3 separate regions of the Homo sapiens genome follow, and all the other regions are linked to region 3. The links come from fine-mapping of genetic effects on gene expression. A gene starts in region 3. Each other region holds a variant in brackets. All regions are shown on one strand. Distances are from middle to middle.

Region 1 (4,239 bases), 74 kb before region 3:
AAGTGCCTTGATCAATAAGGTGCTAAAAAAATATTAATTGAATGAATGGCTAATGACCAAAACTTACCAGACTAATTGAATTTATTTCAGTAGCAGACCTGGAAACGAGGAGGCCGTTGCAGGGATTCATTGATACAGTTGACTTAGCACCCTGCCTCTTAGTGCATTTGCATATGAGTCTCTAGAAGCCTGTTGTTCTCACAGTCCAGGATCTGAAGGCCTTGGAGACCAGCATGGGCCACAGGCATCTCTTTGTTTTGAGGATAGAACCGTGACAGGAAGAAAATTGACCAGTATTACACTAGAATTAATGAAGCTAGAAATGCTTTTGGCATTCTAGACCAGCACATGGGTTTGTTTTTACCCCTTTGCCTCTACAGGATGGAGCTGCAAAGGTGACCTGCATGGCTTGGTCCCAGAACAATGCCAAATTTGCTGTCTGCACAGTGGACCGAGTGGTCTTGCTGTATGATGAACATGGAGAACGGAGAGATAAATTCTCCACCAAACCAGCTGACATGAAGGTAAACAGTGTATTCATGTGTACCTTATTTAACCTATTGATGGGGTCTCACAACTTGAAAGACGTAGTCTGCCTTCTAGCCATCAGCATAGGAAATGGCATACCCCACCTTTTTCTCAGTATAAATCCTCAAGCTCCCTTAGGAGCACACATATGCCTTTTTTTCTCTTTTCTCTTTCATGTGTACTCATTACTTCTTTTTCTTTCTTTTTTTTTTTTTAAACTCTTAGTATGGCAGGAAGAGCTATATGGTGAAGGGCATGGCTTTTTCTCCTGATTCCACTAAAATTGCCATAGGACAGACTGACAACATCATCTATGTCTACAAGATTGGAGAAGATTGGTGAGGATAGAGACTGGGAGATGGGATGGCCCAGGAAAGAAGGGGAAGGCAAGAGAAATGCCTCACTGGGGAGGGGAAATACAGGGGATGAGAAGCCAAGCTTGGCCATTGAAGGCAGAGACTTTCTGGAGTCTGTTTTTGCTTTTCTGCCTTCACCTGTCCCACGTGTTCTTCAATCCCATCCCTGGAGGAAACAGTCCAAGGTCAACAGGAGGCCCTGTGAGATCCTGGAAGCCCAGAGTGATGTCACATCTTTGTTATTGTTCTGAAGCTGCTTAGGCTCCCTCATATACCTCCTTTCAGGGCTCCTACAGAGTAGTCAGAAATACTACTGGGCCAGGGAAGAAATCTGCTCTTTCTTCTCTTCCCTCAGCATCATTTTTGGCAATTTGTTTATGGAAGTGGTATTTATTTATTTATTTATTTTGAGATAGAGTCTCACTCTGTCACCCAGGCTGGAGTGCAGTGGCGCGATTGTGGCTCACTGCAAGCTCCTCCTCCCAGGTTCACGCAATTCTCCTGCCTCAGCCTCCCGAGTAGCTGGGACTACAGGCGCCCACCACCACACCCGGCTAATTTTTTGTATTTTTAGTAGAGACGGGGTTTCACTGTGTTAGCCAGGATGGTCTCGATCTCCTGACCTCATGATCCTCCCGCCTCGGCCTCCCAAAGTGCTGGGATTACAGGCATGAGCCACCACGCCCGGCCTGGAAGTGGTTTTTAATATGTTTCCCCTTCTTTTGTTTGGCAGGGGTGACAAGAAAGTCATCTGCAACAAGTTCATCCAGACGGTAAAGTTCAGACCAGTCCCTGGAACCTTAGGATGAACAAACATATATCAGTATATCTACTTATAAATACAGCCAGGAGTTGCATTTCTAACATCTGAATGTGACTTTTCCTACTGCAAGGATGGTGCTTCATGGCTGTTCATGGTCATCTGCTGTCTTCCTTAGAGCCCTGCTGTGTCCTTCCCTATAGGAGATTGAGGTGGTGGTGTGTGGTGGGGTGTTGAAGTTGTTATAAAAGTGCTGGCCCACACAGATGGGGTTATCCTTTTCATTGTTTCCTTCCACGCAGAGTGCTGTCACTTGTCTGCAATGGCCGGCAGAATACATCATTGTCTTTGGACTGGCTGAAGGGAAGGTAAAAGAGGGAAGGGAAACACAAGAGAGGGGGTGGTAGGGATAATGGTTCTGGAGAGAGGAATATGGTTCATCCTCTTTCTTAGGATCAAGTTGCGT[A/G]CTGGGGAGAATGCATAGGGACCAGTTTTGTGGGACAGTTTTTCCTTTTTTTCTTAGGGCCTAGTTAAATATAAAATAGCCTAACCATACTTGTATCAATTTTTCCATTTTCAGGTTCGTTTAGCAAACACCAAAACTAATAAATCATCTACCATCTATGGGACAGAGTCTTACGTGGTGTCCCTGACAACAAAGTGAGTAAAGAGGAGTAGTATCACTAGAGTCTGGAAGTGTTAGGAAAATGCTGTGGGGAAGTCTGGACTGCAAGACCATAGTATGAAAGGCAGGAGAACTGGTAGCAGGAAGCACAGACAAGGTTGTGTTTGACAGAGAAAGGGGCTTTCTTGGTGAGATAAAATAGTCTCTTCCTGTATTTCTCTCCTTTCTCCTTTTTTAGTTGCTCTGGGAAAGGAATTCTCTCTGGTCATGCAGATGGTACCATCGTTAGGTATTTCTTTGATGATGAAGGCTCTGGAGAGTCACAGGTATGAATAAAGAATGTTGTGGGAGGCTTGGATTGCTTGAGTCCAGGAGTTTGAGACCAGCATGGGCAACACAGTGAAACCCTGTCTCTACCAAAAAAACAAAAAATAAATACAAAAATTAGTCGGGCATGGTGGCATGGGCCTGTAGTCCCAGCTACTCAGGAAGCCGAAGTGGAAAGATCACTTGAGCCCAGGAGGTTGAGCCTGCAAGTGAGCTGAAATAGCACCACTGCACTACAGCCTGGGTGACAGAACAAGACCGTGTCTCAAAAAAAAAAAAAAAAAAAGATGCTGTGGAATAGGGGATAAGGAAATTCCAGGAGCCCTCCTAGAGGAGGTTGGACTTCTAAGGCATTTGGATTGAGATACTAAGAGAGGAAGCTAGAGGAGAACTCAGGGACAGAGAAAAAGTTGGATGTGGCCACTGAGAGGATTTGTGTTTAGGAGCCTGGAGCTTACTGCTTATAAGAAGGGATGAATTAGGTGAAAGGGACCTTGAGACAAAGGGAAATAAAAACTCTTAGAGTAATGAAAAGTGAAAATTATTCCCATTTATGTAAAATATATATATTTATGTATGTAGATTCATAGAAAAAAGAGTTAATAGTTTACTCTGGAAAGGGGAAAGGAAAAAGATGGGGGATAAAAAGGAAACTTTCATGTTTTACTCTATATAATTGTGTGTTGTTTGAATCATTTACATTAAGAATTACTTGTGAGCCGTGCCTGTAATCCCAGCACTTTGGGAGGCCGAGGCGGGTGGATCACCTGAGGTCAGGAGTTGGAAACCAGCCTGACGTGAAACCCGTCTCTACTAAATACAAAAAAATTAGCTGGGCGTGGTGGCACATGCCTGTAATCCCAGCTTTCTGGGAGGCTGAGGCAGGAGAATCGCTTGAACCTGGGAGGCAGAGGTTGCAGTGAGCCAAGATCGCATGCCATTGAACTCCAGACTGGGCAACAAGAGTGAAATGCCATCTCAAAAAAAAAAAGAATTACTTGTATAGGCCGGGCACAGTGTCTCACTCCTGTAATCCCAGCACTTTGGGAGGTCAAGGCGGGTGGATGACCTGAGGTCAGGAGTTCAGGACCAGCCTGGCCAACATGGTGAAACCCCGTCTCTACTAAAAATATAAAAATTAGCCGGGCATGGTGGAACGTGCCCGGAATCCCAGCTACTCGGAAGGCTGAGGCAGGAGAATTGCTTGAACCCGGGAGGGGAGGTTGCAGTGAGGTGAGAACGCGCCACTGCACTGCAGCCCCGGCGACAGAGTGAGACTCCATCTAAAAAAAAAAAAAAAGAAGAATTATTCGTATAATACTGAAATTTGACCCTCCTTAAAAAAAGAAGCCCTATGCTCTTTGTGGGCCCAGACGGTGTTGGTTAATGTGTAGCACATCTCCTTTTCTGAGGAGCTTTACCAGGTGCATATTAAAAATTTCCAATACATGCTGGGCGTGGTGGCTCACGCCTGTGATCCCAGCACTTTGGGAGGCTGAGACGGGCTGATCACAAGGTCAGGAGTTCGAGACCAGCCTGACCAACATGGTGAAACCCCATCTCTACTAAAAACAGAAAAATTAGCCTGGTATGGTGGCACACACCTGTAATCCCAGCTACTCAGGAGGCTGAGACAGGAGAAT
Region 2 (4,239 bases), 110 kb before region 3:
CTGGGCGTCCTGTATTTTTATTTGCCGAATCTGGCGACCCCATTTTCATGACCATCTGTTGTGCCGTCTGCTCAACATCCACTCCTTCTGGTATCAGCACCTTGGTTTTCCTCTGAGGATCTATCGCTTCCCCATGCTCAGGTAATGAGGTTGGATTGAGGCTCACCTCCCAGCCCTTCTTCCACCACCATCCTGAAGGGAAAGCACATGATCCAGACTGGGCAGAGCATCCCTTGCTCTGGAGAACAGTGATTGCTTCAGGGACATGCATGTGTCCCAAGCAAGAGCCCCCAACCAGGCATTTGCAAGAACCACAGGACAGGCAAGCTCTTTGCCCACTAGTGTTGCTACGTAAATTGTCAGGCTGGCACTACTGGTGGCCAGTTTGCCACCTAATGGAAAAAACTTGCCTAAGAATGAGAGCAACGGCCGGGTGCAGTGACTCACGCCTGTAATCCCAGCACTTTAGGAGGCTGAGGCAGGTGGATCACCTGAGGTCAGGAGTTCGAGACCAGCCTGGCCAACATGGCAAAACCCTGTCTCTGCTAAAAAATATAAAATTAGCTGGGCATGGTGGGGGGTGCCTGTAATCCCAGCTACTCGGGAGGCTGAGGCAGGAGAATCAATGGAACCTCAGAGGCGGAGGTTGCACTGAGCTGAAATAGCACCGCTATACTCCAGCCTGGGCGATAGAGCAAGACCCCATCTCAAAAAAAAAAAAAGAATGAGAGCAACACAGGGGAAAACAGAGTTAAGGGTGGAAAGTTCTGGAACACATTAGATTCAGCTGCCCTAAGATTGTTCAGTTATATCAGCCACCATTTTCTTTGTTTAGCTTAAACCAGTATAAACTCGTTTTCCATCACGTTTGTAACTGAAAGAGTCTTGCCTAATAATTACAATTTCACAAACACACCCATGTGTGCACACACACTCCTTAAGGGGAAGATGCACCTAATAGGAGGAGCAGAAGCACACAGAAAAGGCAGCCTGTACCCTTGCACATTTCCATATCTCTACAAAATGCCCTCCTCTGGCAGCCTAAGCATTGAGGCCAGGTCCCACCCAACCCTGCCCCATCATATCCCTACCTGCAGCATGGCCAGCGCCCGCCAGAAGAGCTTGGAGTTGCTAATCCGAAGGTCCAACATGTGGTTTTGTAGGATCTTACCAAGAAGCACATGAGCACCTGTACTCACTGTATTCAGCACCCATTTGGTGCTTAGCTCACGCTGGAACTTCTGAAAAGGGCAGACACATGGGGGTGTCAAAAATTAGAGGACAGAAAAGCAGCAGAGTGAACAGGGCCCTGTTATCAGACAGGAAACCAACTGTCAAGAACCAGGGACCAAAATGCAAACATGATTTGTTTGAGCAGCCCAGCGTTTAAATGTTAGGGCAATAGATGTAAACCAGGATTGTCTCAGGCAAACCTGGTAGCTTCACCCATTTGTGTTTTTGACCCCTAGGTAGACAGACATGTTCTCTGAGTCCTTCCATATTAGAATTTTGATCCTGCTGAATTGTTCCTTTTTCTCCCCGGGTATCAGACAGGAGGAGTGGGATTCATTCCACTAAACCACAGGCTTCTTGAAAGGGCAGAGATGGTGACTTATTCTGCTCCAGGGCCCCAGTTTTTTAGACCATGACTGACACATATTTGCTGATCAATACATTTGTTGAGGCCGGGCACAGTGGCTCACTCCTGTAATCCCACCACTTTGGGAGGCCAAGGTTGGGGGATCACCTGAGGTCAGGAGTTCTCAACAAGCCTAGCCAACATGATGAAATGCTGTCTCTACTAAATACACAAAAATTAGCTAGGAGTGGTGGCATACACCTGTAATCCCAGCTACTCGGGGGGCTGAGGCACAAGAATCACTTGAACCCGGGAGGTGGAGGTTGCAGTGAGCCTAGATTGTGCCACTGCACTCCAGCCTGGGCAACAGAGTGAGACTATGTCTCAGGGGAAAAAAAAATGTTTGTTGAAAAATGAATTCTATTTAATTTTTCTAACAGCCCTACAGAATAAGTTTACCTATCCTCATTTCTACATATGAGGAAACTAGAGGTCAGAAGTAAATTAACTTGGAGAAGCTCATATGATAACGAGATGGAGAATGAGGACCTAAATCCCGGTCTTCTGATTCAATGATGAGGGCATTTCCTACTTTGCCACAAATATCTCCTGGATGAATGAGAGAACCTATGTAAAGGCATGTTGAAAACTAAAAAATTGTTCAAACATGTGGTATCGCGAGTATAAAACTGCCCCTTGTTTTTGGCCCTTATATCTTGTCCACCTTGGGGCACTTATAACACCTATTGGCACATTAGCAGGGAAACTGGGGCCCAGTAAAGGTGTTGAGGGGATTAATTAACTGGTGATATGGTTAGGCTTTGTGTCCTCACCCAAATCTCATCTTGAATTGTAATCCCCATAATCCCCATGTGTCAAGAGAGAGACCAGGTGGAGGTAATTGAATCATGG[G/C]GGGCAGGGGGCGTTCCCCCATGCTGTTCTTGGGATAGTGAGTTCTCATGAGATCTGATGGTTTTATAAGGGGGCTGTTCCCCCTTCACTTGGCACTTCTCCTTTCTGCCACCTTGGGAAGAAGATGCCTTACTTCCCCTTCACCTTCCACCATGATTGTAAGTTTCCTGAGGCCTCCCCAGCCATGCTGAACTGTGGGTCAATTAAACCTCTTTCCTTTATAAATCACCCAGTCTCGGGCAGTTCTTTAGAGCAGTATGAAAATGTACTGGCCAAGGTGGGCGGATCATGAGGTCAGGAGATTGAGACCATCCTGGCTAACATGGTGAAACCCCGTCTCTACTAAAAATACAAAAATTAGCCAGGCATGGTAGCAAGCACCTGTAAGTCAGAGCTACTTAGGAGGCTGAGGCAGGAGAATCACTTGAACCCAGGAGGCAGAGGTTGCAGTGAGCCTAGATCACGCCACTGCACTCCAGCCTGGCGACAGAATGAGACTCCATATTAAAAAAAAAAAAAAAAAAGGTACTAATACACGTGGTCCTAGCCAGGCTGAGGAAACAGGCTACTGCTACTTTTACCTCTTTATTCTGGAACTCTAGAAATAGCTGTTCACACAAAACCCTGGAAGAGGGTATATTGAAAACATTTTAATAAGTGAATGTCCACGACACTAAATATAAGAACAGCATGAAATTTCAGCATGAAACTGGCCAGTAAGTATGCAGTACTGATGCTATAGGGTGCGTGTCAGACTGCACTTTGGGAGAGAGGTCAATTAGATCTAGGTTATACCACTAACCATTGATACCATTAACATTAACACCATTAACACAAAAATATTTTAAATTTTACAAAATTTGGAGTGCGACACATTCATTTTAAAGTACACATGGAAAAATCGGCCTGGATATAGCCAGGAAAATCCTTAAAAAGAAGAATAGGCTGGGCACAGTGGCTCACGCCTATAATCCCAGCACTTTGGGAGGCTGAGGTGAGTGGATCACTTGAAGTCAGGAGTTTGAGACCAGCCTGGCCAACAGGGTGAAACCTGATCTCTACTAAAAATACAAAAGAAAATTTGCCTGGTGTAGTGGCGCGTGCCTGTAATCCCAGCTACTTGGGAGGCTGAGGCAAGAGAATCACTTGAACCTGGGGGGCGGAGGTTGCAGTGAGCCGAGATCATACCATTGAACTCCAACTTGGGCAACAGAATGAGACTCCATCTCAAAAAAAAAAAAAAAAAAAAAAAAACAAGAATGAAGAACAAACCCTATTGGATACCAAACATACCATAACGCCTCCATAATTAAAACATATGGTACCAGCACATCAATAGACAAACCAGTGGAACAGAATAGAAAGTCCATAAATAGACCAATGCACATAGAAATTGAGTATGTGACACAGATAGCATCCTAAATCACTCAGGAAAAGATGAACTTAAAAAAATTATATTGGAGCCAGGCACGGTGGCTCACCCCAGTAACCCCAGCTCTTTGGGAGGCTGGGACAGGAGGATTGCTTGAGGCCAGGGATTTGAGACCAGCGTGTGCAACATAGCAAGAACCTGTCTCTACAAAAAAAAAAAAAAAAATTTTGTTTAATTAGCCAGGCATGGTGGCATGTGCCTGTAGTCCCAGCTACTTGGGAGGCTGAGGTGGGATGATTGCTTCAGCCCAGGAGTTTGAGGTTGCAGTGAAATCTGATCACATCACTGCACACCAGCGTGGGTGACAGAGTGAGAT
Region 3 (4,239 bases):
TCACTCTGTCGCCCAGGCTGGAGTGCAGTGACACCATCTCAGCTCACTGCAACCAAGGCTGAGTAATTTTATATGCTCCCTCTACACTGCTTTGGTCAGAGATCTCATCTAGGTTCCTGGCAACCTGCAAGCCTAATTAACATCTTTTCCACTTTCATGGCTTAACTCCAATCTAATATTTTCAATGTTTTTATATTAGTTGTCACCCTAAACTGAACCACTGTTTTCCCCCCAAAACTAGCATCCCCTCAAACTGCACCTTTTTCTGTTAATGGCTCCACCACATTTTGTTATGCAGAGTCAAAATCTTGGTGTTATTCATTCATTCAACAAATATTTAAATATTATTCAGCACATACAACTTTGCAAGGGATGCTGGAAAACACAATGGTAAGTTTAATGGAACTTCTGCCTTCATAAAGGCTTATATTCTATCAGGAAAGACAAACAAGTGTGGACCCAAACTAGTATAGTGATAGTAGAGATTTCCTGGAGAAAGTGATGGTCAAGAGGGGTGTGGAGAGGTGTGCTCCATGGGTAAAAGTGTAAGAGAAAGCATGGCTTTAGATGCACCCAAAGACATTGCTGAAGCAGAGTTGTAGGAGAAATGGAGAGTTAAAGAGAGGCATACGTGAATCTGGATGATTAGCATGAAGGGTCTTGTAAACTATAAGGAATTTGGACTATCGGAAGAGCATGAAGAAGCCATGATTAGTTTTATCTTTTTAAAGAATCTTTTTTTTTTTTTTGAGACGGAGTTGCTCTGTCACCCAGGGTGGAGTGCAGTGGCGCCATCTTGGTTCACTGCAACCTCCGCCTCTGGGGTTCAAGCTATTCGCCTGCCTTAGCCTCCCAAGTAGCTGGGATTACAGGAGCGCACCACTACGCCTGGCTAATTTTTGTATTTTTAGTAGAGACGGGTTTCACATGTTGGCCAGGCTGGTCTCGAACTTCTGGCCTCAAGTGATCCACCACCCCCCCTTGGCCTCCCAAAGTGCTGGGATTACAAGTGTGAGCCACTGTGCCCGGCTGAAAAGAATCAATTTTGTCATAGTTTGGAGAATTTCTCCTTTTCTCTCCATCCCTTGAATGCAATTTATTACCAAATCTGTCTTATTTGTTATTGTCTAATTTGTCCTTTCATCTGGATTCCCATTGCCACCCTGCGTGGTACCACCTTACTCCCAGCTCTTCTCATCTCCTGCTTAGAGTAAGAGCTCTCTAACTAGTAGCAGTGCCCCAGGCCAGGCGCGGTGGCTCACGCCTGTAATCCCAGCACTTTGGGAGGCTGAGGCGGGTAGATCACGAGGTCAGGAGTTCGAGACCAGCCTGGCCAACATGGTGAAACCCCGTCTCTACTAAAAATACAAAAATTAGCCAGGCGTGGAATCCTAGCTACTCGGGAGGCTGAGGCAGGAGAATCGCTTGAACCTGGGAGGCGGAGGTTGCAGTGAGCCAAGATAGCGCCACTGCACTGCAGCCTGGGCAACAAGAGCGAAACTCTGTCTTAAAAAAAAAACAATAGTAGGCGGGGTGCGGTGGCTCACGCCTGTAATCCCAACACTTTGGGAGGCCGAGGCGGGCGGATCACGAGGTCAGGAGATGGAGACCATCCTGGCTAACACGGTGAAACCTCGTCTCTACTAAAAATACAAAAAATTAGCCAGGCGTGGTGGCGGGCGCCTGTAGTCCCAGCTACTCGGGAGGCTGAGGCAGGAGAATGGCGTGAACCCGGGAGGCGGAGCTTGTAGCCTGGGCGACAGAGCGAGACTCTGTCTCAAAAACAAACAAAAAACAACAACACAACAGTGCCCCAGACTCTCTCCCTCCAATGTACACTGCATACAAAGACTAGACAAACGATGCCAAAGGTTACACCAGGACGACAATGAAGTCCAAGTCACTCATCTTGGCGCTTCTTTTTATCAAGCTAGCTAGTTAATATTACCACTTACAATCATTCTCCGAGTCCAGCCAGCTTCCTCAGAAATCCTCCCCAAATGCAGTTCACATTCTTCCCTCACTCCTCCAAACCTTATAACATTATTCCCTTTTCCTGTGGCATAATGCAATCCAGAGGCATCCTCTCTGAGAGCCTACATCCTTTCAATCCTCCAAGAAACAGCTCCTCCTCCCATCCTTGAGCTTTTCCCACCCAGAATAGGCTGTACCAAACATTTCTACATTGTATTAACTCGAATTATATCACAGATCGAGGTCTTCGCTTTCAGAAAAGACTCACATTCTTCTCATATAGGCCTCGCATGGCCTGGCCAAGTACTTCCTAAGCTCGGAACAAATACTGGTCAACTTTAATTGAACCAAATCGGGCGGGGTTTGCGGAGTCTGAGAGTGCAACGTTGGGGAGAGGGGGATGAAAACACTGGAGGACGGGCTGAAAGCGTCGAGTCCGACACAAAAGAGGCGTCAGACAAAACGCCAAGAGGCTGGGGACTGGGAACGAAGGAAGAGGTTCTGCCAGAGGCGACCTGCCACCTGCGCGAGGAAGCGGAGTAGGACGGCGGCCGTTGGTGGGCGTGGTCGCGCTAGTCTCGCGGGAGCGGCCGTTGGGCGGGCCGTTGTCCCTGCGGGCGGGGCGAGTTGCTAAGGAAATGACTGCCCGCAGCGCCTGGCCCCGCCGCGCAGGCCGGGCGGGGTCTGGAGCGGCGCCGTTTCCGCTTCCGCTCCCTCACAGCTCCCGTCCCGTTACCGCCTCCTGGCCGGCCTCGCGCCTTTCACCGGCACCTTGCGTCGGTCGCGCCGCGGGGCCTGCTCCTGCCGCGCGCACCCCCGGGGCTTCGGCTCCGGCACGGGTCGCGCCCAGCTTTCCTGCACCTGAGGCCGCCGGCCAGCCGCCGCCATGGGTGCCTACCTCTCCCAGCCCAACACGGTGAAGTGCTCCGGGGACGGGGTCGGCGCCCCGCGCCTGCCGCTGCCCTACGGCTTCTCCGCCATGCAAGGCTGGCGCGTCTCCATGGAGGTGAGGAGGCAGGGGCCCATAGGCTGGCCGCTGCGGGGCGGGAATCTGACGGAGAAAGAGAGCGGGGGATGGGGTCCTCCCCTGGGAAGGGTCCCAATTGGGAGCCTGCGGCCGCAGCGGCCGTTTGCGGGGCGACAGAGACCGCGGGGTCAGGGCCGAGAGGGAGCTCCCGATGCTTGGGGACCGTGTGCCGGTGGCCAGTGGCGGCGAGGGCTCGGCCATGTGGGAAGAGGCACCTTCCGCCCACTGACCGCCCTCTCCCCGAGCTTTGGCGCCATCCTCTCGTGCCAACCTAGCCCTCCAGGCTCATCAACGGTGTGAGGTTTAGTGTGGGAGTAAAGACGCAAATAGGGGCTATTTATTCATTTGTTTTTCAAGGGAGAGGTGAATAGATGTGAATAACTTTTTAAATTTTAATATTTAAAATATCTGATGTGGGAAGCCTCTTTTGGCTAGGAGTTTGACAGTGAAAGGAACCCCGGGCAGAGTCTGTTTCACATTTTGGTTGCCTGGCCTTGGGCTCTTGCATGTTAATTTCAGAGGCTGGACCCGACCTCCAGGAGTTGTCACTCATTTGCACTCTTTTCAGGGCCTTTTACTAACTTCGGAAAACTTGAATTATGTCAGTCCCTAGGTTTTCCTTTTTATTATGCTTCGTTTTCTTTCTCTCTTAGGATTTCTCTAAAACTTAATCAGTAATTCTCATTTGCCTGTAATTGTAGTTTATAGTTTCTTTGATTGTAAGTCATTTCATCAATTTTTTTCATCACAACCTACCTACAAAGGGCTTTTCTAGAAAATTTTACTCTGGACAAAAGGGGAAAAGAAAAATATTGGGGGGAAAGTAGTAGTATTAGGTAAAACTTGATGTGAAACTACAAAAGAGAAGAGGGAAAACTGCGGTAGGGAGGAAAGGGAGGAAGACGGGTTAACCGTGGCTTTGTGAAGAGCATTCTGAAGTCTAGGCAAAAGGGCCAGGGAAATACTCTGTCTGGTATTGAGGGTTTCTCCACCTACCGGGTGGGCTTCAGGTAACAGCGAAATACTGTCTCCCTTGGGAATTGTTTCAGATCCCTCGCTCCTCCCTGTGGTTAGCTCTGGAATGACAGTATGAACTTAAATGTTTTGTTTTCCGATTCAAATTTTATATTCATAACTGACCTTAATAACAATTTTATAATTAGGTATAAAATTTCAGGATTGGAGTGTATCCTATAGTTCATCTCATCTGCTTTGGCTCCCTTTTTTTTTTTTTGAGA

Which allele goes with the higher level. Positions count from the first base shown, and alleles are read on the strand shown. Sizes are in standard deviations (SD) of each study's normalised expression. Not every link is listed here.
In carriers of allele A in region 1, the expression in subcutaneous fat of the gene that starts at base 2,692 in region 3 tends to be higher than with G alone (small effect, 0.16 SD a copy in GTEx).

Evidence for each region. PIP is the estimated chance that this variant, and not a neighbour inherited with it, causes the effect.
Region 1: its variant is the best candidate, but not a certain one, in a credible set for the expression of PPM1G in subcutaneous fat (GTEx, PIP 0.65).
Region 2: its variant is the best candidate, but not a certain one, in a credible set for the expression of PPM1G in blood mononuclear cells (TOPMed, PIP 0.60).

The regions. Positions count from the first base shown.
Region 1 is chr2:27,481,645-27,485,883 of GRCh38, reverse strand. It overlaps IFT172 (intraflagellar transport 172), which reads left to right. Exons shown (of 48, transcript NM_015662.3): 2 at 381-524; 3 at 754-866; 4 at 1,618-1,657; 5 at 1,947-2,012; 6 at 2,225-2,304; 7 at 2,508-2,595. Among named protein-coding and RNA genes, the nearest start is that of IFT172, 6.0 kb to the left of the region's middle. The variant A/G (reference allele first, on the strand shown) is at 2,111.
Region 2 is chr2:27,515,790-27,520,028 of GRCh38, reverse strand. It overlaps GCKR (glucokinase regulator), which reads right to left. Exons shown (of 19, transcript NM_001486.4): 17 at 1,092-1,241. Among named protein-coding and RNA genes, the nearest start is that of SPATA31H1, 19 kb to the left of the region's middle. The variant G/C (reference allele first, on the strand shown) is at 2,492.
Region 3 is chr2:27,408,044-27,412,282 of GRCh38, reverse strand. PPM1G (protein phosphatase, Mg2+/Mn2+ dependent 1G) reads left to right here and starts at 2,692. Exons shown (of 10, transcript NM_177983.3): 1 at 2,692-2,980. The coding sequence starts at 2,861. RefSeq lists silencers at 2,522-2,711, 2,802-2,991, 3,062-3,111, 3,132-3,211.